Homo sapiens: one gene and its partners. The protein of the gene in region 1 interacts with the protein of each later gene in a pairwise test. Each region holds a gene or a part of one and is shown on either strand. Other genes may lie near its edges.

Region 1 (7,000 bases):
AGGACACGCAGGTCTCTGGTGAAGGAAAAATCAATCATTTGGCATCATGAGTCAAAGTCATCGAGTATCTCACTGAACGGAGAGGGCATTTTGATAGGATATCCAGGAGAAAGCAGCTGGAATCTGAGAACTCTGATCATGCCAGCAGCTTCTATAACCAGGCTAGGAGTTCCGAAAACACAGCGGGGGAAATGACTACCACCAAGCACCAAATACAGGAAAGGGATTCTACCTTCATCTCCCCAAGGAGAGACACTGGAATGAAAGCACAAAACAGAGCCCCAAAGCCCTAGTTCCAGCTCCAACTCTAAGAGCAATCTAAGCTGAAACAGCCCCAAGGGGCGGCAGAGAAGTGGAAGAAGCCAAGTTTAGCCTTGAAAGCCCCAAGATGTTTTAGACAGGGCTGCAAGGAAAAAACATCCTGTGTCTCAGTCCGCCAGACTGCTATAACAATTTACCATAACCTGGCAGCTTATCAATAATAGGAGCTTCTTTCTCACAATACTGGAGACTGGAAGTCCAAGATCAAAGCGCTAGCAGGTTCAGTGTCTGGTGAGAGCCCAAATTCTGGTTCACGGACAGCGCCTTCTCACCATGTCCTCACATGGCCGAAAAGACTAGCTAGTTATCTGGGGTCTCTTTTACAAGGGCACTAATCCCACTCATGCGTGTTCCACCCTCATGACTAATCACCTCCCAAAGCCCCCACCTCCTAATCCCCCATCACCTGGGGGGGTGAGGATTTCAACATGAATTCAGTAGGGGCACATAGGCATTCAGACCATAGCAACCTGCAAGGAAGGAGCTCAGAGCAGGAGCCAGCCTCGGGGTGGAAGTGGAGATCTGAAACACTGAGGCCAGCAGCAAATTACAGCAAGTGTCCAGCATTGAAGAGTGTCATTGGACAGGTCCAAGTCGCTGCTGTTCCCTAAACAGTGAGAGAATGAAATTCAAATTTTAGGTAGATGTTGATAATGCTCTGAACAGCTCAGGCAGGGGAGAGTGAAGACAGATCAGAGACCAATGAAGAAAAGAAGTCATCGGGACTCATGGGAGGAAGGACAACTCAAATGTAGAGGTAAGGCTCAAAGATGACCCTGACTGCGGCTTCTGGGATTTGAGAGGAGAGCAGTGCCACTGAGAGAGGTTGGGAAATTAAAATATGTAGTCAATCTTTTGGAAACAAAATGCTAAGTTTGGTTTTAGATCTGAGTTCAGGCTTACAGCATCTCGTATTTGGAAACAGAAGGGCAGAACTTTCACAAGGTGAAATGTAGCTTTCAGACGAGGGTGGTTGGAAGCGTGAGAGAAGAAAGCAAAGCCATGGCCAGACTCTTACCCTTCTGACTTCTTACCTCTTTTAGCTTAAAATGTGCTAAGGAATTCCAGTGGAAATGGTGGAATTGCTACCTGATGACAACTCAGTGCCTCACTAGCAATCTCACGCAGCTAACACGATCCACTCCTATCACACGATCCACTCCTATCACATACATTTTCATCTGGCTGCAGAAATTCCATCTAGTTAATAAAGTTTTCTGATGCGATAGGAAAAACCAGTAACATAACCACAAATGTAGGCCGGAGCCCCCAAACCCCGATGCTTCCTGTACCCTTCAGTGCACTATGCTCGTCCCCATTACTCCAACAGTTATGGACTTACCGATTATGTGCCATAATACATAACATGCGTGTGTCTGTTGGCATGATACTGCTCAGAGGAACCCTGGCCTCTCAAACAACTCAACAGGTTATATGCTACAGTCTTTCAACAAGTATTTATCATCAGCTTACTGTGTTCCGGGTACAAAGAGTAAGTCAATTCCTGCCCTCAGTTCATTGTGTAGTGCTACATATCGATGAATATTGTGATGCTCTCAAACTTGGAGTTTATGATGTGAGGAAGATAAGAGCAGCATGTAGAAGATCCACAACTTTCATTCATCATGCACTGACATCCTGAAAGCATCTCTTGTAGAATTCAGTCTTCCATACATCCCCAGAGGGTTGCCGATGTCAGCTGAAACAGGAGGGCAGGGCCAGCCAGCTGCTGCTGCTGCTGCATGGGAAGGAGCCTGGCCATCTGCCAAGGAGGAACGGATGATTGATGGCACGCTGCTGGGACCCATGCAGGAGCCAGACCAAGCTTAGCAAAGAGGCTTCCACTCTGGTCCTTGCTGAGGGCCTGGCGGCCACTCACCCTCATAAGACCCATGCCCCAGGCTGATGTCTCCTCCCCCAGCCAGGCTCCCACTCCTTGCCTCAGCTGTCCTCCTTTCCTCCCTTCCCCCACCCAACGCAGGGGCTCACAATAACTCCTGAGCCTGAAGATCGCAGGCCAAGGCCCCACGTGGACTGCACTGAGCTTAATGACCTCTTCCCCACCACTGCTGCAGATGCCTAGCAAGTCTCTGCTCAGAGATTTAAAGATGAGGGGTTCCCCACCCTTCATCCTGGCCAAAGTCACAAAAATAACTCAGGGAAAAGTTCAGAGAAATCAGCCAAAATCTATCACCACTACTGGAAAAACTCGGAACATGCCCCATGGACAATGGGGCAGCTCTGTTAACTTCTCTGTATCATGATGGTCACACGAAAAGATGACATTTCTGGTCTTTGTTCTCAGGCATTAACCATATTCTTCCCAACGTTCATAAAACACTATTGACTGCACTCTTGGTGAAGTGCTGTGAGTTCTTGGTGGGCAGCACTCTTGGTGAAGTGCTGTGAGCTCACTACGTGGGGAGATGAGACAGATTGTGCGAGTTCCGTGCAATAAGACATCTAATTAGCAACGCAAGATGCCATAGAAAGGATTCATAAAGTAGTACATAGCTATTTGTCCAGTAGAGAAGAAGGAGATCACTTAGGTTGGAGAGAAAAAGGATGGGTTTCCGGGAGAAGGGGAATTAGAGCAGGGCAAATTTCAAGGATGCTTCCTTGAAGATAAGGATATATGGACAATACAGGTCTTTCCTAAGCAGGCCTTTAATAGACATTTAATGAATGACTAAGTAAAAAGATCCAAGTGTGCAATCCACGCTATGGGTATGGTCGTGTGAGCAATACAGAGGCAGAAAAGTGAAACACATTAGGCAGAAGATGGGGTTCTACAGGGACACAGTGGAGAAAAAGACTGGGAAAGCAGGTAAGGATCACATTGTGGGAGGTACAGAATACCCTCATCCCAGGGACTTCAGGGAAACACTAAACGTTCTGGAACAGGTTGTAAAATCAAAGAGCTCTGGGCAGGATGCAAAGAGGGGAAATAACAATTCTGTATCCTACAATTTAGAAATTAATCACACATTGGGGAAAACTTTTCTAAAAGGAAAACTGTTTTCTATCATTTTCTTTTAAAAATCAACGTACATCACTCACAATACAAGAAATACACATAATGCCTTCTACATAATAGTGGAAGGAATTTGTCCTCAAAGATCTGTTCTTTGTATAAATGATGCCATCACAATTGATGCTTCAATAAAAATGAATATTTATGAAATGTAAAATGACTTGGATTAACTTATTCCGATTTCACTCTCTAAATTTTGATTTTTCAATCACGCCAAAATGTAGATTTTGATTACAAAAGCAAGTTGCAGAAAAAAGATGTACTTGACAAGAAAGAGCAAAATTGAAAAAAAAAAAAACTTCAAGTAAGTATGACAAAAGATGACAGAAAGGTGGTCAATTAGACTAAAAACAGCGAGACAGATCATCTTCAAAGTGGAGTTATGTAATTCACAAATGCAGTCACATTACAAGAAGCAAGTTACAAAAAAGCATCAAAAGTCTATGTCTTCCATCCATCCTCATTACACAGCCCCCTCCTCAGCCATTAATTTCTTAGCTATCCTTTCAAAGTTTCTCTATACATATTATTTTCCCTTCTGTTCACAGAAAAGTTAGCATACTGTATATATACACTGTTGAGACCTTGCTTTTTTCACTTAATGCTACATCTTGGCAATCCCTCCATACCCATTCACACAGATGTTCCACATTCTTTTTTACAGCTGCATATCCATTGTGACAATGAACTGTAATTTATGTAACTAGCCACTACTGATAGGCACCTGGGTTGTTTCCAGTCTTGTGCTATTGCAAACAAAGCTGTAGTGAATAACCTGGTGCAGTCATCATTTGGCATGCATAGCAGTTATGTCCAGACGATAAATTCCCATAAATTGAATTCCTGGGTCAAAAGGTATATGCATTTGAATTTTTGATAGATACAACCAAATTGCCTTCCATAGGAGTTGAGCCAATTTATACTCTTGCCAGCCATGTACAAGAGTGTATTTTTCCTTAAGAATTTACCAACACAGTGTATCGTCAAAGTTCTGGATTTCTGCCAGTCTGAAACATGAAAAATGGTATTTGCATTCTCATTATAAGTGAAGTTGAGCATCTTTTTATATGCTTAAAAGCCAATTGTACTTTTCTGTAAACGGTCTGTTCATAACCTAACGTCTACCTTGCCAATGGATGTTGGTGTTTTTATTTCTAGAAGCTTCTTATATAATTAAAAAGATTGGTCCTTCACCTATGATATGAATTGCAACTATTTACCATCGTTTGTCTTTTGGCTTTGCTTATGATGATTTTTGCCATGCAGAAGAATTTTACTGTGATATGATCTAATTTATCAGTCTTTTTACTGTGATATAATCTAATTTATCAGTCTTACGTTTTCCGATTTTCAAGTCATGGTTAAGTCATGGCTTTCCTCACACCCAGATTATAAAAACATTCTGTTCTCATACTGTTTCATTTTTAACAATAACCTAAATGGAAAAAGAGTATAGGAGTTAAGGCCAGAAACTCTATAGCCAAACTGACTACGTTCATATCCCAGCTCCACTACTTATTAGCAATGTATGTTGTTTAAACTGCCTAACATCTATGGGCCTCAGTTTCCACATCTATAAGTGGTGATAACAGTTACTACTTCTTTGGGTTACCGTAAGGATTAAATGCATTAGTAAATTACTACAGTGCCTGGCATACAAGACACTTAACAAGTGTGAGCTATTATCATCATATATCTGGAATTTATTCCATCAAACACTGAAATTTATCCTGGCTTACGGTGTAGAGATCCAACCTTTTTTTCCATATGGCTACCCAGTTGTCCCAATACCATTTATTGAATATTTCACCTTTTCCCCACTGACTTGAGATACCACCTTTATCAAATGCTGCATTCCCTTATGTATTTAAGAACTTCTGATCTTTTTTCCTCTTTTGTAGTTCTCGAATTGCTTTGTCTGATCACACTGGCTGTACCTACAATGTAAAATAATAATCTATCATTCAAAGTAGGCCAATTCATGTTATAATCCAATTTAGGTGGCCTGGGAGAAATTAAACATTAAGAAGTTTAAAGGTTTGAATCTTACCTTCTTACAAAGTATAAATCAACGACTAGATCACACTTAATAAAAAGGTGGAAGTTTCCTTAATACAAAAAAGGTAGAATTTATTTTTAAAGGTGGGATTAAAACTAAGATAACACCAAAATTTTGCTAACAGTGCACACTGTAAAAGGTACTAGGCTGTTCTCACTCCTCGTCTTGGTCTGAACATCAGTGGAAATCTCAACGTTTCTTCATTAAGCCTAAAATGGGCTTTTGGGTTCAAATAGATATGCTATGTCAAGGAAATAGCCATTTATTCCTGCTCTGGAATTATCTGCTCTTTAAATATTTGGTAGATAATCTTGGTGAAACTAGACAATGCTTTGAGAGGAGGTAACTCTTTCATAGCTTTATTTCTTCTATAAAAATCAACCTGCTTAAATTTTCTACCTCTTCTGGGGTCAATCTGGATTACTTATATTTTCCTAAAAATTATCATTTTCATCAAAGTTTTAAAGTTTATTTTAAAAGAGTTCAGTAGTCTCCTAACATTCTTCAAATTATCTGTTTTTATGATCTCCTCTTCTCAGGACTTATTTTGTATATTTGTACTTTCATCTTTTTCTTGAGACTACCTCATTGTTTACAAATGTCATTAGTGTAGTTCAATTTTTTTTCAAAGAGCCACCTTTTGGATTAATACATTGTTCTACTGTTTTTTTCTATTTAAAGTTCTTAAAAGAGAATACCTTCTGATGGTGCTCTACATCTGTTTTTAACATGTTAGTGCCCAAAAAAAGCACTGTAACAAAAAAATACAATGAACACTAAGAATGTAAACGCAAGAAAGCCAAGATAGAATCAAACTTGTCAAAGTTATTTTAAAGGACAGCTCCAAATCCCAAACACCTGATCCCACTGATACTCTATAAAAAGGTAAGATTCATTCCCAAACACAGATTAGCAATGTTTCCAATACGCAAAAACAAGTTCCACATGAAAGACGGCCTTTGTGTTAGTCTGTTTTCACACTGCTATAAAGAACTACCTGAGACAAGGTAACTTATAAAGAAGAGAGGTTTAATTAGCTCACAGTTTCACAGCCTGTACAGAAAGCATGGCCAGGGAGGCCTCAGGAAACTTACAATCATGGCAGAAGAGGAAGCTGGCACATCTCCACACAAAGGAGCAGGAGAGAACGAGAGAGCGCAAAGGGGCAAGCTACACACTTTTAAATAATCAGATCTCGTGAGAATTCATTCACTCTCACGAGAACAGCAAGGGGAAAGTCCACCCCCCGCATGTTTCAATCACCTCTCACCAGGCCCCTCCTCCAACAGGTGGGAATTACAATTCGAAATGAGATTTACGTGAGGACACAAAACCAAACCATATTGGACTTTTACAATAATTACAATAATTCACCGGAAATAAGATCAGTTCTGACTGTAAGGAACCCACATCTTAACAAAATGGAAGGCACTCTGAGGTTTTAATTATGAGCCTTCTACCTGCAGCCTATTTTGAACAATACAATACCAATACACTTCAACAAGTATGAATTCCCCTTGTCCCTCATTCCCAAGTTCTCAGAGTATTGCTTGGTGGTCAGGCACTGAAGCACAATGAGACCATCT
Region 2 (7,035 bases), on another chromosome or scaffold:
TCCCTTTCCCAGTTCTAAGGCTTGGGTAAGTGCCACTAGTTCTGCTAACTGGGTGCTGGTCCCTGGGGGAAGAGGCTTAGTTTCAAGTACTGTTACTATGGCATAACCTGCCCTTCGTATCCCATTCTCCACAAATGAACTTTCATCGGTATATAGGTTAAGGTCAGGATTAGCTAAGGGGACTTCTAAGAGATCATCTTGGGTGGCATAAGTCTGGACTATAACCTGTTGGTAGCCATGCTTGACCAGCTCCTCATCCTCTGGTAGAAAAGTGGCAGGGCTGAGGGCCACACATGTATGCACTTGAAGCACTGGTCCCTCAAGGAGTAGCGCCTGGTATCTAAGCAGGCGGTTGTCTGATAACCATAAACTTCCTTTGGCACCTAGTATGCCATTTACATTGTGAGTAGTCCAGACAGTGAGATCCTTTCCTTGTATTATTTTGATAGCCTCTGACACTAAGACAGCCACCGCCACAACTACCTGTAAACAGTGAGGCCAGACTTTTGCTACTATATCAATTTCCTTACTTAGGTATGTCACTGATTGTGGGGTTGTCCCATGAGTCTGAGTAAGGACCCCAAGAGCTATTCCTGCTCTCTTTGTGATGTATAAAGAAAAGTTTTGTCCTGTGGGAAGGCTTAAGGATGGACCTTGAGTTTGTTCCTTCCAATGCCCAGACTTCAGGGTTGATTCCCTCCTCAAGCAGGGGACAACAAATGGGTAACTTGTTCCCCATATTCATAGATAATAGCTCCAGCTTTGGCTAATATGTCCCTCCCTAATAAGGGTGTGGGACTTTCAGACACAACAAGAAAGGCATGTGAAAAGAGCAAAGTCTCCCAGTTACAACTGAGGAGGTGGGAGAAATACCTGGTTACAGGCCATCCCAGGATTCCTCAGATGGTAACGGACCTTGAGGACAGCTGTCCAGGACAGGAGATTAACACTGAGAAGGCCATGCCAGTGTCCAGGAGGAAATCAATTTCCTGGCCCTCAATGGTTAAACATACCCGGGGCTCAGTGAGGGTGATGACATGAGCTGGCACTTGCCCCGGGCATCCTCAGTCCTGTTGTTGGATCATCTGGTTGGGGGCTTCTGGCCCAGAGAACCATTGTACTCTGGGGCAGTGAGCCTTCCAGTGATTGCCTCCGCATAGTGGACATGGGTGAGGGAGCAGCTTATTTCTAGTAGGACAATCTTTTTTAAAGTGTCCTTGCAAACCATACTGAATACAAGCCCTACCAGGTGATTGACCTGCTCTATTTTCTGTCCTCTCTGAACCACCAAGGTTTGTTTGTCTGAGGGCCATGACTAAGGCTGTGGCCTTTCTCTGATCTTGCTTTTCTTTTTGGGCCTGTTTCTCTTGGTCCCTATTATAGAACACCGAGGTTGCCAGGTTTAATAATGCCTCCAGATTTTGTTCAGGGCGCAAGGCTCGCTTTTGGAGCTTTCTCCTGATATCTGTGGCTGATTAGGTAATAAACTTATCTTTTAGAATCAATTGACCCTCGAGTGGGTCGGGTGACAGGAGAGTATATTTTCTTAAGGCCTCCCATAGCTGTTCGAGGAAGGCAGAAGGATTTTCTTCCTTTCCCTGAGTTACGGTGGACATCATTGAATAATTCACAGGCTTTTTCCTAATTCTCCTTAGTCCTTCTAAAACACAGGTCAACAGATGTTTGCAACTCCAGTCCCCATGATCTGAGTCGAGGTCCCAGTGGGGATCCATACTGGGGATGGCTTGCTGACCAGTAGGGAATTTGCCCCTTTCTTCGACTGTCATTCTATCATTTACTTGACTAAGATACCAGGTATCTCCAAACTCTCGGGCTGCAACTAAAGCCACATTCTTTTCATTAAAGGCCAGAGTTTGACCTAATAGCATGATATCTCTCCAAGTGAGGTCAAAGGTTTGCCCTAGACCCTGTAAGACATCTATATACCTAACAGGATCATCTGAAAACTTCCCCAGATCTGCCTTGATCTGCTTTAAATCAGAGAGGGAGAAGGGGACATGTACCCGGGTTGGGCCAAATTCCCCTCCCCCTACAGCTTGAAGGGGACATAAATGATAGCTCAGGGGTTTTTGTGGTCCTTTGGAGATTTCTTTGTTTGTTTCCTTCTGGGTGGGGGAGATTAGAGGAGGCTTATCATTAATAGGAAGGGGAGCTATAGGGAGGCTAGGATATGGAGGTAAGCTGAGAGGTCCTCCTGTGGGATGTAAATTGCAAGTTTTGCATAGTTGTGTATTCTCCTTCAATGAAAAGAAAGCTTGGACATAAGGTATTTCACTCCATTTGCCTTCCTTCTTACAGAAAAAGTCAAGCTGCAGGATAGGATTGTACTTTATACTTCCTTCAGGTGGCCATCTTTCCCATCAGAGAGAGAATATTGGGGCCAGGCCATAGTGCAGAAAAAAGTTAGCTGCCTCTTTTTCAGGGTTTGCAGGTCAAATTGGTCCCAATGGCTTAGGATGCATTTCAAGGGTGAGCCTGTTGATGCCTGAGTGTTTCCCATCTGAAAGACAAAACCACCCTTGGTCTTGGTTTGTTTCTACCCCTCCCCAAGAACCCACAATAGTCCCTGGACCCTGCTGATTGGAATAGTTGCACTTACTGATGCAGCAACAGAAACACCTCTTGCCCAAGAACCCGCAACGGTCCCTGGACCCTGCTGATCAGAATAGTTGTGCTCACCGACGCAGCATCAGAAACACTAGTTTTCCTCTTAGACCAAAAAGAGGACCGAGGAAGGTCAGATTTAGTGGCCCTTACTGATGCATTCTCAAAAACCTGCATTCTTGCCTGTCCTCTTAGACCACAAAGAGGACCAAGAAAAATTGGATTTAGTGGCCCTTACCGATGCATTCTCAAAAAGCTGTTAGAGTCCTAAGCATTATCCTGTTAGTATTGGGACCTTACCACTGTCCTATAAAGATGTTATGCCCCAAAAATGAACTGGACGGACATACCCTGAGAGAGGGAAAGGATCTCCAGAGTTGGAAGAGTGATGCTTTTTGTCCTCACTTATATGAATAGGAAAGATACCATTTCCGAAGCTCCCCATATCCTAGCTTCAGGAATAGCTTTTGTTAGGCCTGCTTGTCTGAAGAGGGATCCTAAAATTCCAGATAGTCCCTTGCCCAGATGGGACTTTGGGCAAAAATTATGTCTTTCTGATTGGTGAGCCCGGGTGCCTAAAGAAGGTAAAAGAGTCCTGAAGTTTATACTAGAAATCATTCTTATAGGAGAAACTAGAAAAGCACCAGAGACAGGGAGTGCTTTTTAGAAGTGGACTAGCCTCAGAGAAGAGAGGCGAGAGGAAGTTTGTCTGACAGGCATTAGGACCCAGGAGGCAAGGGTCAGGAGATAGGATAGATGGGCAAGTCTCGCTTGGGTGACATGATTTTGAGAGTTCCACTCATGGCCGCAGGGTCAACCAACTTGTTGTTGGGACCCCGGAGCTGAATGGCTTTCCTCTCTGTCAACCCTCGGCTCAGCCTGGAAGTACCATTAAAGTGGAAGCTGGCTCCAGGCAAACCAACATTCCCAACTCCATAGAGTCAGGGATTGTTAGAGAGCCCTATCCCAGAAAGCCTGGCACCTGTGTCTTTAGTCCAGCGGCCGCGCTAGTTGCTTTTAGCTGACCGACAGGTGCCCAGTATTTACCCCCAGAATTCTAAGGAAAAACAGGACAGAATAGCAAGCAAAAGGGGTCTGATGGTACTCATCACTTGGCAATAGGCGAGAGTCCCATCTGGGTTGCCAAAATGTGTCCAGAATTGGTTGCTTCTGGTGGGTTCTTGGTCTCGCTGACTTCAAGAATGAAGCCGCAGACCCCACGGTGACTGTTACCACTCTTAAAGATGGTGTGTCTGGAGTTTATTCCTTCAGATGTTCATATGTGTCCGGAGTTACTCCCTTCCGGTGGGTTCGTGGTCTTGCTGACTTCAGGAGTGAAGCCACAGACCTTCACAGTGAGTGTTACGGCTCTTAAAGGCAGCACGTCTGGAGTTGTTTGTTCCTCCCAGTGGGTTCATGATCTGGCTGACTTCAGGAATGAAGCCACAGACCCTCACGGTGAGTGTTACAGCTCATAAAGGTAGTGCGGACCCAAAGAGTGAGCAGCAGCAAGATTTATTATGAAGAGTGAAAGAACAAAGCTTCCACAGTGTGGAAGGGGACCCGAGCAGGTTGCCACTGCTGGCTCAGGTAGCCAGCTTTTATTCTCTTATTTGGCCCCCACCATGTCCTGCTGATTGGTCCATTTTACAGAGTGCTGATTGGTCCATTTTACAGAGTGACTGGTTCTGTTTTTACAGAGTCCTGATTGGTGCATTTACAAACCTTTAGCTAGACACAGAGCGCTGATTGGTGCATTTTTGCAGAGTGCTGATTGGTGCGTTTACAAACCTTTAGCTAGACTAGACACAGAGCACTGATTGGTGCATTTACAATCCCTTAGCTATTCAGAAAAGTTCTCCAAGTCCCCACCTGACCCTGAAGCCTAGCCAGCTTCACCTCTCAAGAGGAGATAAATGTTTATACAGTGTAACTTAAGCAACGCTACTCAAACTGCAGGTCTGCGATGAGAAAAGGAGCTTGTACCAGAATGTAAGTTAATGAGTGCTTCCTTCATCTAGAAAGTCTTGCTACAGCCTCTCCCTCTCCCTCTCCGTCTCTGTCTCCCTCTCCCCACGGTCTCCCTCTCCCTCTCTTTCCACGGTCTCCCTCTGATGCCGAGCCGAAGCTGGACGGTACTGCTGCCATCTCGGCTCACTGCAACCTCCCTGCCTGATTCTCCTGCCTCAGCCTGCCGAGTGCCTGCGATTGCAGGCGCGCGCCGCCACGCCTGACTGGTTTTCGTATTTTTTTGGTGGAGACGGGGTTTCACTGTGTCGGCCGGGCTGGTCTCCAGCTCCCAACCACGAGTGATCCACCAGCCTCGGCCTCCCAAGGTGCTGGGATTGCAGATGGAGTCTCGTTCACTCAGTGCTCAATGGTGCCCAGGCTGGAGTGCAGTGGCATGATCTCGGCTCACTACAACCTCCACCTCCCAGCAGCCTGCCTTGGCCTCCCAAAGTGCCGAGATTGCAGCCTCTGCCTGGCCACCACCCCGTCTGGGAAGTGAGGAGCATCTCCGCCTGGCCGCCCATCATCTGGGATGTGAGGAGCCCCTCTGCCTGGCTGCCCAGTCTGGAAAGTGAGGAGCGTCTCTGCCTGGCCGCCATCCCATCTAGGAAGTGAGGAGCGCCTCTTCCCGGCCACCATCACATCTGGGAAGTGAGGAGCGTCTCTGCCCGGCCGCCCATCGTCTGAGATGTGGGGAGCACCTCTGCCCTGCCGCCCCGTCCGGGATGTGAGGAGCGTCTCTGCCCGGTCGCCCCGTCTGAGAAGTGAGGAGACCCTCTGCCTGGCAACCGCCCCGTCTGAGAAGTGAGGAGCCCCTCCGCCCGGCAGCCGCCCCATCTGAGAAGTGAGGAGCCCCTCCACCCAGCAGCCACCCCGTCTGGGAAGTGAGGAGTGTCTCCGCCCGGCAGCCACCTCGTCCGGGAGGGAGGTGGGGGGGTCAGCCCCCCGCCTGGCCAGCCGCCCCGTCCAGGAGGTGAGGGGCGCCTCTGCCCGGCCGCCCCTACTGGGAAGTGAGGAGCCCCTCTGCCTGGCCAGCTGCCCCGTCCGGGAGGGAGGTGGGGGGGTCAGCCCCCCGCCCGGCCAGCCACCCCGTCCGGGAGGGAGGGAGGTAGGGGGGTCAGCCCCCCACCCGGCCAGCCGCCCCATCCGGGAAGTGAGGGGCGCCTCTGCCCGGCCGCCCCTACTGGGAAGTGAGGAGCCCCTCTGCCCGGCCAGCCGCCCCGTCCGGGAGGGAGGTGGGGGGGTCAGCCCCCCGCCCGGCCAGCTGCCCCCTCCGGGAGGGAGGTGGGGGGTCAGCCCCCTGCCCGGCCAGCCGCCCCCTCTGGGAGGTGAGGGGTGCCTCTGCCCGGCCGCCCCTACTGGGAAGTGAGGAGCCCCTCTGCCCGGCCACCACCCCGTCTGGGAGGTGTACCCAACAGCTCATTGAGAACGGGCCATGATGACAATGGCGGTTTTGTGGAATAGAAAGGGGGGAAAGGTGGGGGAAAGATTGAGAAATCGGATGGTTGCCGTGTCTGTGTAGAAAGAGGTAGACATGGGAGACTTTTCATTTTGTTCTGTACTAAGAAAAATTCTTCTGCCTTGGGATCCTGTTGATCTGTGACCTTACCCCCAACCCTGTGCTCTCTGAAACATGTGCTGTATCCACTCAGGGTTGAATGGATTAAGGGCGGTGCAAGATGTGCTTTGTTAAACAGATGCTTGAAGGCAGCATGCTCCTTAAGAGTCATCACCACTCCCTAATCTCAAGTACCCAGGGACACAAACACTGCGGAAGGCCGCAGGGTCCTCTGCCTAGGAAAACCAGAGACCTTTGTTCACTTGTTTATCTGCTGACCTTCCCTCCACTATTGTCCTGTGACCCTGCCAAATCCCCCTCTGCGAGAAACACCCAAGAATGATCAATAAAAAAAAAAAAAAAAAAAAAAGTCTTGCTACAAAGTGCTTAGGGTGTAGCTGATTTACTTTCAGGCACAAGCCTCTTATCTCGTTTCATAGATTAGTTAAAAATTGGGAACTTCTAATTACATTTTGAACAGTGCTAATTTAAAGTAGGGGCCTCCATTGTTCAAGTTCCAGTATTTGAGAGACTTTCTTTGCACTAAACATTGCCTTCTCCTTCAAATCAATTTCCCCATTGCCAGGAGGCATCTGAAGCAGAAAATCATCCTGGTTAGGATAATGAAAGGCAAAGAAAAGAGGTGGGGAGGGTGCCAAATAAACTTGACCTAATCTTCCATTTTGCACACAGGAACTCAAAGTCACCTATCATATGCTAGAAGCTAGTGATTAAATTGGTTACAGATTACTCGCTGAATCCCAGGCAAAAATAATGTGGTTAAAAACAGTATTTAAGCATGTGAAAAATCAGATGTATCGGCTAACAGTCCTGTTCACCTT
Region 3 (7,076 bases), on another chromosome or scaffold:
GGCTCTCAGACCATGGGCAATTACCTTTCATGGCCTCCAGAGGGGTGGAGTAGCCGGGTCCACAATTCCCACATTTCGTAGCTGTGGAAGCAATGGGGCGCATTGGCTGGGCCACGCTCTGGAGGGTGAAGGCTCCCTCCGCACGTTCTGCAGCACACATCCCAGCGGGCCACGGCAGTGCGGCTGGCCTAGGTCCCCACTCCAGCCTCATCGCTCTGGCCTGTCCTCTCCGCCCCCTCAGAGCCCTGAGGAGGGTGAGGTTGTGCTGGGAAGAGCTGGAGACACATGACCTGAAGGTGGACAGACAGTCCAGCAGGGCCCCGGGAGGGTGGGAGGAGGGCTGATGCAGCCGGGGTCGTGTGGTGTAGTGAATATGACACGGACTCGGGGCCCAACCCCAGCCCACCACTGACTAGCCAGGGGAGCTTGGGCAAAGTACTGAAGCTCCTCGACCTCAATTTCTGCATCCTCTGTAAAATGGAGATGGTAAGAATTTCACAGTGGGCTTTTACGAGAAGTAAACACGAGGGTGCAGTAGGTGTGCAGCTCTGTGTTTGTCTGGTCGAAGCCCAGGCACCCTTGGCTGTTCTTGAGGAGCTGCTCTCAGGGAGTGGGGTGGCGCCTGCTCAGCTCCCTTCACCAAGATGCTTCTATATCAGGGGGAGGCCACTTCCTGCTTTTCTCTCCCCTGGGTCCTGATCCCAGGCTGCTAGCCAAGGGCTGGATTACATAACCGAGGGTCTGGGGCTAATACCAACTGGAAGTCCTCAGGCTGGTTTCTACCCCTGGGTGTGCCCCACTTCCTTTATCTGTAAAGTAAGGTGTTTGGCCCAACTCTGGAGAGCCCAGAGGCCTGCCCACCAGAGAGATAGGGAGCAACCCTCCCTATCTCTGAAGTCTGGCAAGAGGGGCCATGCTAATCTCCAGGATGTAAGTCAGCAGATGTGCAGTAGGGCTGGGACATCACAGCTACCAGCACCCCAGCATCAGAGTTTGGGGCCTGCTGGGGAGCAGGGGTTAAAGAATACCCAGAGGGGGTGGCAGGCTGAAAGAAACCCTGGAGTGGAGTCCACAGGCCTGGGCCCTGTCTCCTGCCTTGTCCTGTGGCCAGTCCAGCCTCTGCCTTCACAGCTGGGCCGCAAGTGGGGAGCCAGGAGTAGGCAGAGTGGGGCCTCCACTGGGGCCTGGGACTCCCACTCGCAGCAGCCAAGAGACTTAGGAAGCTGAGAGGCAGCAACAGCGTTCAGAGTCTGGAAACCTGGTTTCAAGTCCCAGTTTTGACGCCCCGTTTCTCCATTTTCTCCTCTTCATTTACGAAAAGTGGGCAATAATGATATTCTACCTACTTTGCTAGGTAGATATGGAGGACAAATAAGACAATGTATTCCAAAGGCCTTTCATAAAAATGAATTAGGCCGGGTGCGGTGGCTCATGCCTGTAATCCCAGCACTTTGGGAGGCTGAGGCGGAAAGATCACCTAAGGTCAGGAGTTTGAGACCAGCCTCACTAACATGGCAAAACCCTGTCTCTATTAAAAATACAAAAATTACCCTGTATTAAAAATTAGCCTGTATTAAAAAATACAGGCATACACCTGTAATCCCAGCTACTTGGGAGGCTGAGGCAGGAGAATCACTTGAACCTGGGAGGTGGAGGCTGCAGTAAGCCGAAATCACGCCACTGCAGTCACTCCAGCCTGGGCAACAAGAGTGAAATTCTGACTAAAAAAAAAAAAAAATAATGAATTACTGTGTAAATATGGGAAGGGCTGTGCCAGAGGAGAGGAGAATGCCAGGGAGTGCTCGATGCCCAGCGAGAGGGCTGGAGGTGGGGCAGGGAGAGAGAGAGAGGTCCAGTTCACAGGAGTTAAGGAGACTGGTTCTGTTACACAATCTTGCTAAGTCGGGGCTTGGCACCAGATGACAGGGGGTGGGGAAGGAGGTTGCTGGATACAGAAGGGAAAGGAGATTTTAAAACTCCAAGACCTCAAGACAGAGATACAAAAAATACAAAGCTAGGGAGAAGCTGAGAGGGAAGTAAAAGTGCAGAGATGGAGCTGCCCGCTCTGCAGCCTCGGCCCACCCCACACCCCAGCAACCCCAGCCCCAGCATTTCTTAGGGTCAGGCCTGGCATGCCACTGCAGCCCCAGGGAGCATCATTCCTCTTTCTGGGGAATACCCCCATCTGAAACATCTCAAGCAAGGTCTCGGAGCAGCTTTGGGTTTGGGATGGACTCATGGAAAGCTCAAGTGGGTTTTCCATGTCAGGCTGGCTGCTGGGCATTCTGCCAGCTCGGCATTCTGCCAGCTCAAGAGCCAGCCCCGAGCGGGGAAGGACCTCCCAACCAAACCTCAGTTCCTTCTTAGCCTGTCACCCAGAAGCCTACAGATGGAGGAATAGCAGGGCCAAGGGGGATTTAGGGGTGGGGGAGGCATTGAAACAGGTCCCCAGTGAAAGAGTGTGGGGGTCTCTGATTTCCCTCCCAGAGAGCTTTGCTGTGTGGAGTAGCTAGAGAGTGACCTGGGCACAGAAAGGCTTTGGACTCCCTACCTCGCTGGAGTACAAAGTTGGCCCATGGCTGAAATCAGGATCACCTCTCTACTATGTGAGGGCCAGGGACCTAGTGGTGTTTTCTAAGAGCGCCCATCTGATTTTCCCAGCTGCAGAAAGGCACCCTGGTCCCAGCCTCTGCTGGATGGAGCCAAGTCAGGGCCCAGGATCCCATCTCCCAGCAGTGCCTCTGCCCGTCTTCCTCAGAAAGTTTGGCTGAGCTGGGAAATGCAGTGGGGTGGTGGGGGAGGGGGTGTGCAGACTGGGGACAATGAAGCAGAGTCCACTACTCCCTCCCCAGCTCCCCACTCAGGTTTTCTAGCATTTTCTGGAGGAGGGCCTTCCAAATTAGGGGCAGACAGAGCAGGCAATGGGTGATTGGAAACCCCTCTCCTTACCCATGCTGCCGACTGGTACACTTTGATCCCGGCGGGTTTGCTGTGCTGGTGTCAGAGGCCGCTGTTCCGGGGAAGGAGCGAAGGGAGGGAATTTATACAACCAGCTGGGGGTGGGGCAGAGAAGGAGGAGGGCCCGGGCTGTAGCCCAGAGTAAACTACTCAGGGCAGCTGGCCAGGATACTCTCAAGTGGCCTAGGGCAACTGGTGTTTGAATTATGGGGTGTGCGTGTATGTGTTTAAGTGTGTATGTGTGGGAGCCTGTGCTTTATTTATTTATTTATTTATTTAGAGACAGGGTCTCACTCTTGCCCAGGCTGGAGTGCAGTGGTGCGATCTCGGCTCACTGCAACCTCTGCCTCCTGGGTTCAAGTGATTCTCCTGCCTCATCCTCCCGAGTAGCTGGGATTACAGGCACCCACCACCATGCCCAGCAATTTTGTATTTTTAGTAGAGAAGGGATTTCACCATGTTGGCCAGGCTGGTCTCAAACTCCTGACCTCAGGTGATCCACCCGTGTCGGCCTCCCAAAGTGCTGGGATCACAGGTGTGAGCCGCTGCCCCTGACCAGCTCGTGCTCTTTAGTGGGTGCCTGGGTGTGTGTGGATTTGTGTGTCTGGGCATGTGTGTGTTCCTGTATACCTGCGTGTTGCTCGTGCACGTGCCTGCATGAGTGTGTATCTGTGCCTGTGTGTGAATTTCCACGTGTGTGAATGTGCCTGTGAGTGTGCTTGTGTGTATTTGTGCGTGTGTGTGTGTGCGCGCCTCTGTATGTGCCTACCAGAGTATCTACGCCTGTGTGTGTGTGTGTGTGTGTGTGCGCGCCTCTGTGAGTATGTGCTTGCTAGAGTATCTACGCCTGTGTGGACATGTGCATAAGTGCTTGTGTATGTGTAGTGTGTGGCTATGTGGCTGTGCATGTGCTTGTGTAAGCCTGCGCACGTATGTGTTCCTGTGTCTCCAAATGCTCGTCTTTGTATTTGGACCTGTCTCTTAGCATTTAGGGGCACCCGGGACTGTGGGCCCATCAGCCAGGGTCACTTCTTCCCTAAGATTGCCCTCTTATTCCAGATATTCATACTCTTTGGATAAAAGCTCTGGGGTGAAGTTTTTATTGGCTAGGAAAAAGAATAAAGTCTGGGCTTGAGATTGCAAGTAGAATACAGGGTTTCCAAACCAGAGTGGGGGAAGGGGAGCAAAATTGGGCCTTGGTGCATTGGGTATCTGTCTTCCTGGCTCCCATCAGTGAGGGATCATGTGCCCATCAAGGAAGACTCCCTGTGGCTGCCCGGGGCAAGGGTCTTCTCTTATCCCCAGCGCCACTCAACCCCTCTTGGCTCCATCCTGCATCTATTATCCTCACCATTGTGCCATCAGCCTGCCAGGCATCAAAGAGAGTCTTGTGTGTGCAGCTGCCCCACGGGGAAGGCCCTGAAGGCTGCTTCCTTGTCTTTGCCAGCTTCCTCCTGTCCTGACTACCTCCACTCACCCTGCCTTCACCCTTCCCTCTGGCCCTCCCCTCTTCCTCCTCCTGAGGTCTCCATCTCCTGCCTCCTCTCTATTCTCCGGCTTCTTGGCTTGGGTTAGTCCACCACCCAAGATCTGAAAGAGAAAGAAACTTTATCCCCACCTTCTCATAAAAAATTATTGAGTCATTAACTTAAAAAAAAAAAGGCTGTTATTTTGTTTGTTGTGGTCTGTCATTGACTACCTCTTTCATGCTCCTGAGCTCTGACCTGGCTGGTCTCTGCAGCAACTCCATGGCACCCCTCACCTCTGCCTGTGGTTTTCTCCCTGAACTCTTGCTCTACAGCCAGCAGGTGGTTGGGGAAGTTATCCTAATCTGGGCTACAGAGGGAGGCAGTAAAGGTAGAGGGGCGATTCTCCTGCCTCAGCCTCCCGAGTAGCTGGGACTACAGGTGCCCACAACCATACCTGGCTCATTTTTGTATTTTTAGTAGAGACGGGGTTTCACCATGTTGGACAGGCTGGTCTCGAACTCCTGACCTCAAGTGATCCACCCACCTCCGCCTCCCAAAGTGCTGGGATTACAGGCCTGAGACACCGTGCCTGGCTGACCTGGATAATTTTTAAATTTTTTTTGTAGAGATGGGGGGTCTCACTATGTTGCCCAGACTGGTCTCAGACTCTTGGGCTCAAGTGATCTGCCTTGGTCTCCCAAAGTTAATTTTGGATTTTTAAAAAAATAATAAGTACTGCTTTTGTAACTAAAAGCTCAAATAAATATATTAAAAGAAAAACTATAAGGAAGATGAAAGGAAGGATGGAAGGTCACATGCAGTGCAGGTGAGGGCCACAGTGAGGGCCCATGCTGGGGAGAAGGACTGGCCCCGGTCCCTTTTGAGCTACAGCTCTCCCAACCAGCTGCCTATCCTTCCCTCTGGAGCACCTCTTTTGAGCCAGATATGGTAGACAAAGTGGTGAACAGGGCAAAGTTGCTACCTTCATGGAGATGACTTTTTAGGGGAGATGACTGATAATCATGCAAATACACAAATAAATAAAATCACTTCAGATAAGTGCTGTGAAGGAGTAGGGTAATGTAGGGGTGATGCAGCATTAGGTGGGGTTGCTTGGTATGTATGGGTACAGAATTATATGCAAACAAACAGTACAAAAGAACTAAAACAAACAAACCAAAAAGCACAAACGTGCACAAAATGCCTGTAAGGCATAAAGGTAGCAGCCCATGGAGGTCTGAGGCAGGACTGGCTGGAGAGGTTGGAGTTTTCACCAGCTAAGTAGAGTTTCAGAGCCCTGTTCTGCTCATTTCTCCTTATATTAACAGACCAACTCCATACCCTCAGGGATGTGTAGGAGATGTGAAGGGAGTAGCGTTTACTGAGAACCTGCTACTAGAGGTGACGGGCGCCATGCCGGGCCCTACACACTAACAATTAGCTCAGGTTCCGCCCATGGCACAGCTGGAGAGGTTAAATGCCTTTTTCTTTTTCTTTCTTTTCTTTTTTTTTTTTTGAGACAGAGTCTCCCTCTGTCGCCAGGCTGGAGTGCAGTGGCGTGATCTCTGTTCACTGCAACCTCCGCCTCCCAGGTTCCAGTGATTCTCCTGCCTCAGCCTCCTGAGTAGCTGGGACTACAGGCGCATGCTACCACGCCCAGCTAATTTTTGTACTTTTTAATAGAGATGGGGTTTCACCATATGGCCAGGCTGGTCTCAAACTCCTGACCTTGTGATCTACCCGCATTGGCCTCCCAAAGTGCTGGGATTACAGGTGTGAGCCACCGTGTCTGGCCTGTAAATGCCTTTTTCTTCATCTTACATTCAGGAAACAGAGTTTTCCCAATTCACTCCGTTGCCCACACTTAATGCACTGTTTCTGAATGACAGTGAGTTCAAAGCCTGCTGCTCAGGGTAATAACATGGCTCAGAGAAGAGAAATAATTTTTTTTTTTGAGACGGAACGTCACTCTGTCACCCAGGCTGGAGTGCAGTGGCAAGGTCTTGGCTCACTGCATGTTCCATGTCCTAGGTTCACGCCATCCTCATGCCTCAGCCTCTCGAGTAGCTGGGACTACAGGTGCCTGCCACCACGCCTGGCTAATTTTTCATATTTTTAGTAGAGACGGGGTTTCACCGTGTTAGCCAGGATGGTCTCTATCTCCTGACCTCGTGATCTGCCTGCCTCGGCCTCCCAAAGTGCTGGGATTACAGGCGTGAGCCACCGCGCCCGGCTGAAATAATTTTTTTTAATGCCCTCTGCCAGGGCTGTCTATAAAAAGCATGATTTGAGAACCACTTGGAGGACTTTCTCCTCACTGCCAATCCACTCAGAAATATCCTCCCTTTGGCCTGCCATTGATGCTTGAAACTTCACCAATAGCAGTTTATTTCTTTGTGTTACTACCAGATGGCCTCTTCTCACCTCCTGGCTACAGTGAATGTCTCTGGAGTGGTAACCCTTTAAGCTCCTAGTACTGCAGCGCCACTCAGTTTTATCAGAAGCCTGTGTCCCAGTGGGCAGCACTGAAGAGTGGCTGGGGGCCTATCATATCCAGGGAGATGCTAAGGTTGGGGACAGAAGGTGTTTAAAAAGCAAATGTTATCGTCTTGACTCCTTACCTCTATTGCTTAAAGAGAAGGAAGAATA
Region 4 (7,035 bases), on another chromosome or scaffold:
TTCAAAATAAGAGACAACAGGACTTGATGGCAAGTTAGACCTAGGGCAAAGGGAAGGGAAAAAATGAAGGTAACTAAGATTGTGTTCCCCACACCCCGGGGATGAGGGAGAGAAGGAAGGGGCAACAGAGACAGTCTGACCATCTCTGGTTGGGAGCGAGTCTGGCTGTAGACTTGCTGTCTCAGAGGTGCTGGTGGACACCCCTAGGGTGGCTATCTCCTGGGTGTCAGAGATTGTGGCCCCAGATGGTTCCACTGCGGCCAAAAGGGAGATCAGAGCTCTGATTTTCCCAGAGGGCAGATGTGGGTGGAGAAGGTCTGTGCTGAACAAGAGTAGCCATGATTTGGAGACGGTGGCCCAGGCAGGTAGCACGGATTCAGCCTGAGTGCTCATCTGGGCCCTCCCACTGACCTGCTGTGTAACCCTGAGCCAGTTTTCTCCTATCTCTCAATTTCCATTTTCACTGAAATAAGGGGATGATCTTAAAGGGCACGGCCAGTTTTGACCTTCTTTTCTTAATTTTTTATTTACTTATTTTTTTTTTGAGACAGGGTCTTGCTCTGTTGCCCAGGCTCGAGTGCAGTGGCTCAATCACGGCTCACTGCAGCCTCAACCTCCTGGGCTCAAGTGATCCTCCCACCTCAGCTTCTGAGCAGCTGGGACTACAGGCACATGCTACCATGTCTGGCTAATTTTTAAATTTTATGTAGAAACAGGGTTTCCTTATCTTGCCCAGGCTCAGCTTTGACCTTCTGATGATCTAGAGGGAATGAGGAGAAATAAAGGAGGAGGCATAGTCTGGGTCTGAGACCCAATAAAAGCAGGGAACAGGAAGGACCCTAGGAGACAGAGAATTGTGGAGAAGGCAGCACAGAGCAGGGAGGAGAAAAGGGGTATAAGGTGAGAGCCACACAGACACTGTGACACACACAGAGAGACGTGTGCACTCTGACAGATTTGCAGCCTCAGACATTGACATGCTCCCACACACAGACCCAGCCCCTCATGCTGACTCTCAGGCACATCCTACGGAAGACAGCTGGAGAGGCTGTGCCTCCCCCCATCAGACATCTCTGCCTGACTTCTCCAGCTTCCTTGACTATACCCTGAGCCTTGAGAGTCCTTTGGATTTGGGAGAGGGGTGAGGCCTGCCTCCTTTTGCCTATGGGTGTTCCAGAGGCATCCTTGCTCTGGCCTCAGTGTAGCCATTTTCCGCCCAGCCTCAGGTTCCTGAAGATGGCATGCTCCCCCTCCCTGGCTTTTCCTGAGGGCATACAATTCCTCATCCTCTGGGAGTGGGGAAGGATGTTGCTACCTGCACTGCTCCTTGGTCTTCCTTATGGCCCAGTGGAGGAATCTGAGGCCCAGAGAGGATCTGTAACTAGCCTGAGGTCAGCCCAGCAAAGGGGAGTGGGAAGGAATGGACCAACCTCAGATTTGCTATTTAGTGTTTTCCCAGTTGTAAGAATTAGAAGCCCACTGGCAGACATCGGGCTATGGGAGTGGAATTCCTTCTGCCAGCCCAAGGGCTTCCTTTTCCAGAGTATCTTGAGGACAGGCTACCTGGGGTGGGAGCCTGACCCTCTTCCAAAGAGACTCTAGGCAGGTCAGAGGCACCTCCCAAGCCATGTCCTGGGAAACCCAGACTCTGCAGGGACATTCCTCCCAGGGAGGTCAGAGAGGAGGGTCCACTCTGCCTTCAAGGTCTGGCCACACTTCCTGAGGAGGGCCTGTACCTCTTCAAACACTTCCCCTGGCACAGCCCACTTACGGGCTCACATTCCCACTGGGGAATAACTCTTGATCCTTCCCAAACCTGCTTCTCAGCAACAACACTTCTATCCACTGAGGCTCAAATCTGAGCCTCTGCCTCAACTCCTCTGTTCCTCTTACTCCCACATCCAATCAACTGCAAAGTCCTGCCAGTGCCCTTCTTAACGTCTCAGCCCATCCACGTCTCTCCACGACCCTTACTCTGGCAGCATTGTCTCTCACCTGAACCGTGTAGCAGGCCCCTCCCTGCTCTACCTACCTGCCCCCACCAAAGGTCATCTTGCATGCTGTGGCCAAAGGAAAAATTCTTTTTTTTCTTTTTTGAGACAGGGCCTTTCTTTATCGCCCAGGCTGTAGTACAGTGGTGCCATCTCAGCTCACTGCAACCCCTGCCTCCCAGGCTCAAGTGATCCTCCCATCTTAGCCTCCCAAGTATCTGGGACTACAGGCATGCACCACCACACTCAGTGAATTTTTTTTTTTTTTTTTTTTTGAGACGGAGTCTCACTCTGTCGCCCAGGCTGGAGTGCAGTGGAGCGATCTCGGCTCACCGCAAGCTCCGCCTCTGGGGTTGATGCCATTCTCCTGCCTCAGCCTCCCAAGTAGCTGGGACTACTGGCGCCCGCCACCATGCCTGGCTAATTTTTTGTATTTTTAGTAGAGATGGGGTTTCACTGTGTTAGCCAGGATGGTCTTGATCTCCTGACCTCGTGATCCACCTGCCTCAGCCTCTCAAAGTGCTGGGATTACAGGCGTGAGCCACTGCGCCCGGCCAATATATTTTTTTTTTTTTTGAGGTGGAGTCTCACTGTGTCACCCAGGTTGGAGTGCAGTGGCGCGATCTCAGCTCACTGCATGCTCTCCCTCCTGGGTTGACGCCATTCTCCTGCCTCAGCCTCCCGAGTAGCTGGGACTACAGGCGCCTGCCACGACGCCCAGCTAATTTTTTTGTATTTGTAGTAGAGACAGGGTTTCACCGTGTTAGCCAGGATGGTCTTGATCACCTGACTTCGTGATCCACCCACCTTGGCCTCCCAAAGTGCTGGGATTACAGGTGTGAGCCACCGTGCCCGGCCGCGCCCAGCCAAATTTTTAAATTTTTTGTAGAGACTAGGTGTCACTGTATTGCCTAGGCTGGTCTCAAACTCCTGGCCTCAAGCTGTCCTCTCATCTCAGCCTCCCAAGGTACTGGGATTATAGGCATGAAATACGGTGCCCAGCCTGGAAAAATTTTAAAACACATACCTTTTCTTGGGTCCCCAGTGACTCGTTCAAGACTGGGTATATCATAAGCATTCTGTAAATATTGTGGAATGAATGCAATCTTCCCAGCCCTTGTTTTAAAAAATCCCAGGAGCGTCTGTTCCCTCCAATTTCTTGGCATGGATTGGAGGCCCTTTGTAACCAACCATCTGCCTCTTTGACCCAGTTACAAGTTATTGAAGGTTGGCTCATGTCTGCTTCATCTCCATCACTGGCACAGGGCCTAGCACACAGTCAGTCTCAATAAATGCTCAGGGAATGAATGGATTAATGAAAAGCCAAATGTCAGTAGAGGATTTCTATTTGTATAGAGGAAAGAGGGAGAGAAGCTCCCTGCTGGGGTGGCCCAAGAAAGCCTTGAGGAAGAAATTGGGAGACAGTGCCAAGGGGACACACAAGGAACCTACCTTGGGTCCCTTCTCAGGACAGAAGCCTGCCAAGGAGGGTGGGGGCTGACTTCAGAAAGCCCTAAATGGCAAGGAGAGGAGTCAAGGCCTTAGTCTGTGGGCAGGGGAGCCATGAAAGGTGTGAGCAGGAGGGGAGAGGATGAAGACTGTGGCGTGCTGCACGGTCAGTGAGGAGGAGAGCTGAGACCTGGAAGGCGGGAGACCCCCGGGGCTAGGAGAAGAAACCTACCTGAATGCAGGTGTTGTGAGGGGAGAGGAGGCCCCATTATGGGGGAGTGTCATGAGGGGAAGGAACCTGCAACCCCGCCCTGTGTGTGGCAGGGGAGGGGGCAGCTGTGGCTGAGGCAGGGCCTTTCCCTGGACCCAGTCGGAGGAATCCCTCTGTCCCACAGGCCCCGCCATGGGGAAGACCAACAGCAAGCTGGCCCCCGAGGTGCTGGAGGACCTTGTTCAGAACACTGAGTTCAGCGAGCAGGAGCTGAAGCAGTGGTACAAGGGCTTCCTGAAGGACTGCCCCAGCGGCATCCTCAACCTGGAGGAGTTTCAGCAGCTCTACATCAAGGTGGGCGGCCGGCACCTGGTGTGAGGGAGCCAAGTACCCGGGTTGGGGGAGGCGAGGAACCGGGGGTGAGGGAGGCAGGGCACCCTGGGATGAGAAGAGGCGAGGCACCCGGGGTGGGAGGGGAGGCGAGGCACCCGGGGTGCGGGGGAGGTGAGGCACCCGGGGTGGCGGGGGCAAGGCACCCGGGGTGGGAGGAGGCGAGGCACCCGGGGTGCAGGGGAGGTTCCCTGAGATGGGGGCGGGGTGGGCGGGGCTGTCGCTGCGCCCCAACCCACCGCACCCCCCTCAGTTCTTCCCCTACGGCGACGCCTCCAAGTTCGCGCAGCACGCTTTCCGCACCTTCGACAAGAACGGCGACGGCACCATCGACTTCCGGGAGTTCATCTGCGCCCTGTCGGTCACCTCCCGCGGCAGCTTCGAGCAGAAGCTCAACTGGGCCTTTGAGATGTACGACCTGGACGGCGACGGGCGCATCACGCGCCTGGAGATGCTGGAGATCATCGAGGTGCGGGGCCGCGCGGGCGCTGCTGTTCCCGAGGCCAGCGCTTCGCCATCCCCGCCCCTGCCTCCGCGCTGCTCTCGGGCTTCGGGGCCTCCCTGCTGCTCCCCAGCCTGCGATCCCGCCTCCTACCACCCCGCTACAGGCCCGGGCTAAATGCTTTACCCGACACTCGACGGGGCGGAGGGGTTGGTTACTGTCCCAAACCCCATTTGGCAGAGGAGGAAACGGCCGGGTTCCTGATTCCAATCCAGGGAGTCTGACCTCATAGCTGATGTTTTCAACTCATTCTGTCAACAGGCAGGGATTGAGCGCCTGCCAGTTCTTGCTTTCATGGGGCATTCCTTCTAGTGAGAAATTTTTTTAAAAAATAAATGAATGAAGACATGCGGGGTCAGGCCGTAGGTGCTATGAGGAAGATACACTAAGCAAAGTGCAGGGAGAGCGCGTGATGGAGAAGTTACTTTATATAAGATGGAAAGTTAGCAGCAGCCTGAATGGGGTGAGGCCTTTACTGCAAGATGCCTGGGGGAAAGCGTTCCATGCTGAGGGGCAATTAAGGCAGGTCGGCCTTTCTCTGCAGAGTTCAAGGAGGGGCCAGGAGGCCCGGTGGTGGGAGAGCCATGAGAGGGAGAGAGTGATAGGAAGGTGGTCATACGGGGAGCCAGGAGCCCCATCAGTAAGGTCTCCACGGAGTTGGGCTTCTGGCATGTTTCATCCACATAAATATTATTTAGTCTAAATAAAAAATTAGTTGAGGGCTGGGCGTGGTGGCTCACGCCTGTAATCCTAGCACTTTGGGAGGGTGAGGCCGGTGGATTACCTGAGGTAATGAGTTCGAGACCAACCCGGTCAACATGGTGAAACCCCGTCTCTACTAAAAATACAAAAATTAGCGGGACGTGTTGGTGCATGCCTGTAATCCCAGCTACTCAGGAGGCTGAAGCAGGAAAATCACTTGAACCCAGGAGGCAGAGGTTGCAGTAAGCCGAGATCGCGCCATTGCACTCCATCCTGGGCAACAAGATCGAAACTCTGTTTCAAAAAAAAAAAGAGTTGCTCATTAAATATCCAGTCTTAATGACCACATATACCTTCCAGTATCCTCACCAACCCCCAGTGTTCTCCCTGCCAGATCCCTTTCCTTCACCCGCTGCTTCTCGGGGCCCCTTGTGGGTGTTCACACCTCCCTCCTCCTTCCCTCACCAGGCAATCTACAAGATGGTGGGCACCGTGATCATGATGCGCATGAACCAGGACGGGCTCACGCCCCAGCAGCGTGTGGACAAGATCTTCAAGAAGATGGACCAGGATAAGGACGACCAGATTACATTGGAGGAGTTCAAGGAGGCAGCCAAGAGTGACCCATCCATTGTGTTGCTGCTGCAGTGTGACATGCAGAAGTAGAAGCTGGTGAGGGGCAGGGTCCCTGGCCAGAAGGGGCATGGCCACCTCCCAACCTGATGACCTCTCTGGCTGGCCTCCCAGGAGGAGGGACACTCCAGCCCCCCTCTCTGGCCCACCCAGTCCTCTGCCCAAGCCCTTCCTCCCCTCCATCAAGATCTTTGAGGGACCACCTCACCCTGCAAAAGAGACAGGTCCTCCAGTACCCTGTCTTCTAGCCCCACCTCCCACTTGGCCAGAACCAATGTCCATTGGGCATAGGGGAGTTGGCTTTTGCCCCAGGAGGTGAGGTTAAGGAGTTGGGGGCCTGGGGTTCTGGTTAGGAATTCTCTTGATCCTGGGATTATGCTTTATAGGATGTGGTCCCACAGGCCTGTCACAGGGCCAAATTGGGTCTGTCCATTCCTGAGGCTCCAGATCCCATAAAGGGGGTCTCTTCCCCATCCCTTCTACTCTACCTGGCCCTTCCAGCCCCAGCCTTTGGAGCGTTCATTCAGTCCTTTCTTCAGCTAATGATTACTGAGCACCTGTTTGGTGCTAAGGATATGGTCATTTACAAGACACATCTTGTGCCCTCTGGAAGCTCATAGGGTTGTGAGGCAAACTTCCAGCCGTCAGGGTCTCAGCTAAGCAGAAGGTGCTGGAAGGCTGGTTAGTCTGGGAGGAGCTATTTCATCTTCCAGCTCAGCTCCACACAAAGCTGCAGAAGGACGAAATGAAAAGCATTTGGAAGTTTAGGAGCCACGTGAGTGAAAGTTTTAAGAAAAATGAAATTTATGTCATACTTATTTTTTTAGTACCCTTTAAAGGAGCTACAGTCATTTTATTATTTCAGGAGGTTAAAATATACTCTATATTACTTGGTTTCTTATAAAATGATTAAATGAATAGAGAAAATATTAATTTTCAAGGGGAAAAAACCTGAGAAGAAAGGGAGAAAAGACCATGAAATTTACCAGATAACACTTTTTAAGACTAAGTCCTGAGCTGCCACTCTCAGCAGTTTTTGCTGCTTCAGCTCTTCCTTTTTATTACCTTTTTCAATTCAACAAGCAACTTTCTGCTACATACTTACTCCGGTTGGGTGCTGACTTCAGGGACAGGAAAAAGCAAGGTTTGCAAAGAGT

What was found.
Region 2: the proteins of MSRA (region 1) and CTNNA3 interact in binary tests that used the Homo sapiens proteins (3 or more experiments, as listed by UniProt).
Region 3: the proteins of MSRA (region 1) and SELENBP1 interact in binary tests that used the Homo sapiens proteins (3 or more experiments, as listed by UniProt).
Region 4: the proteins of MSRA (region 1) and HPCAL4 interact in binary tests that used the Homo sapiens proteins (3 or more experiments, as listed by UniProt).

The regions. Positions count from the first base shown.
Region 1 is NC_000008.11:10,057,292-10,064,291, reverse strand, and holds part of MSRA (mitochondrial peptide methionine sulfoxide reductase isoform a precursor), read right to left. Parts: intron 6,450-7,000; exon of another isoform or gene 792-6,449; intron 1-791. UniProt on the Homo sapiens protein: Has an important function as a repair enzyme for proteins that have been inactivated by oxidation. Catalyzes the reversible oxidation-reduction of methionine sulfoxide in proteins to methionine.
Region 2 is NC_000010.11:67,686,196-67,693,230, forward strand, and holds part of CTNNA3 (catenin alpha-3), read right to left. Parts: intron 1-7,035. UniProt on the Homo sapiens protein: May be involved in formation of stretch-resistant cell-cell adhesion complexes.
Region 3 is NC_000001.11:151,369,689-151,376,764, forward strand, and holds the start of SELENBP1 (methanethiol oxidase), read right to left. Parts: upstream 3,018-7,076; 5' UTR 2,954-3,017; coding exon 2,950-2,953; intron 291-2,949; exon of another isoform or gene 212-290; coding exon of another isoform or gene 82-211; coding exon 25-81; intron 1-24. UniProt on the Homo sapiens protein: Catalyzes the oxidation of methanethiol, an organosulfur compound known to be produced in substantial amounts by gut bacteria. Selenium-binding protein which may be involved in the sensing of reactive xenobiotics in the cytoplasm.
Region 4 is NC_000001.11:39,681,412-39,688,446, reverse strand, and holds part of HPCAL4 (hippocalcin-like protein 4), read left to right. Parts: intron 1-3,835; 5' UTR 3,836-3,843; coding exon 3,844-4,005; intron 4,006-4,294; coding exon 4,295-4,510; intron 4,511-5,713; coding exon 5,714-5,911; 3' UTR 5,912-7,035. UniProt on the Homo sapiens protein: May be involved in the calcium-dependent regulation of rhodopsin phosphorylation.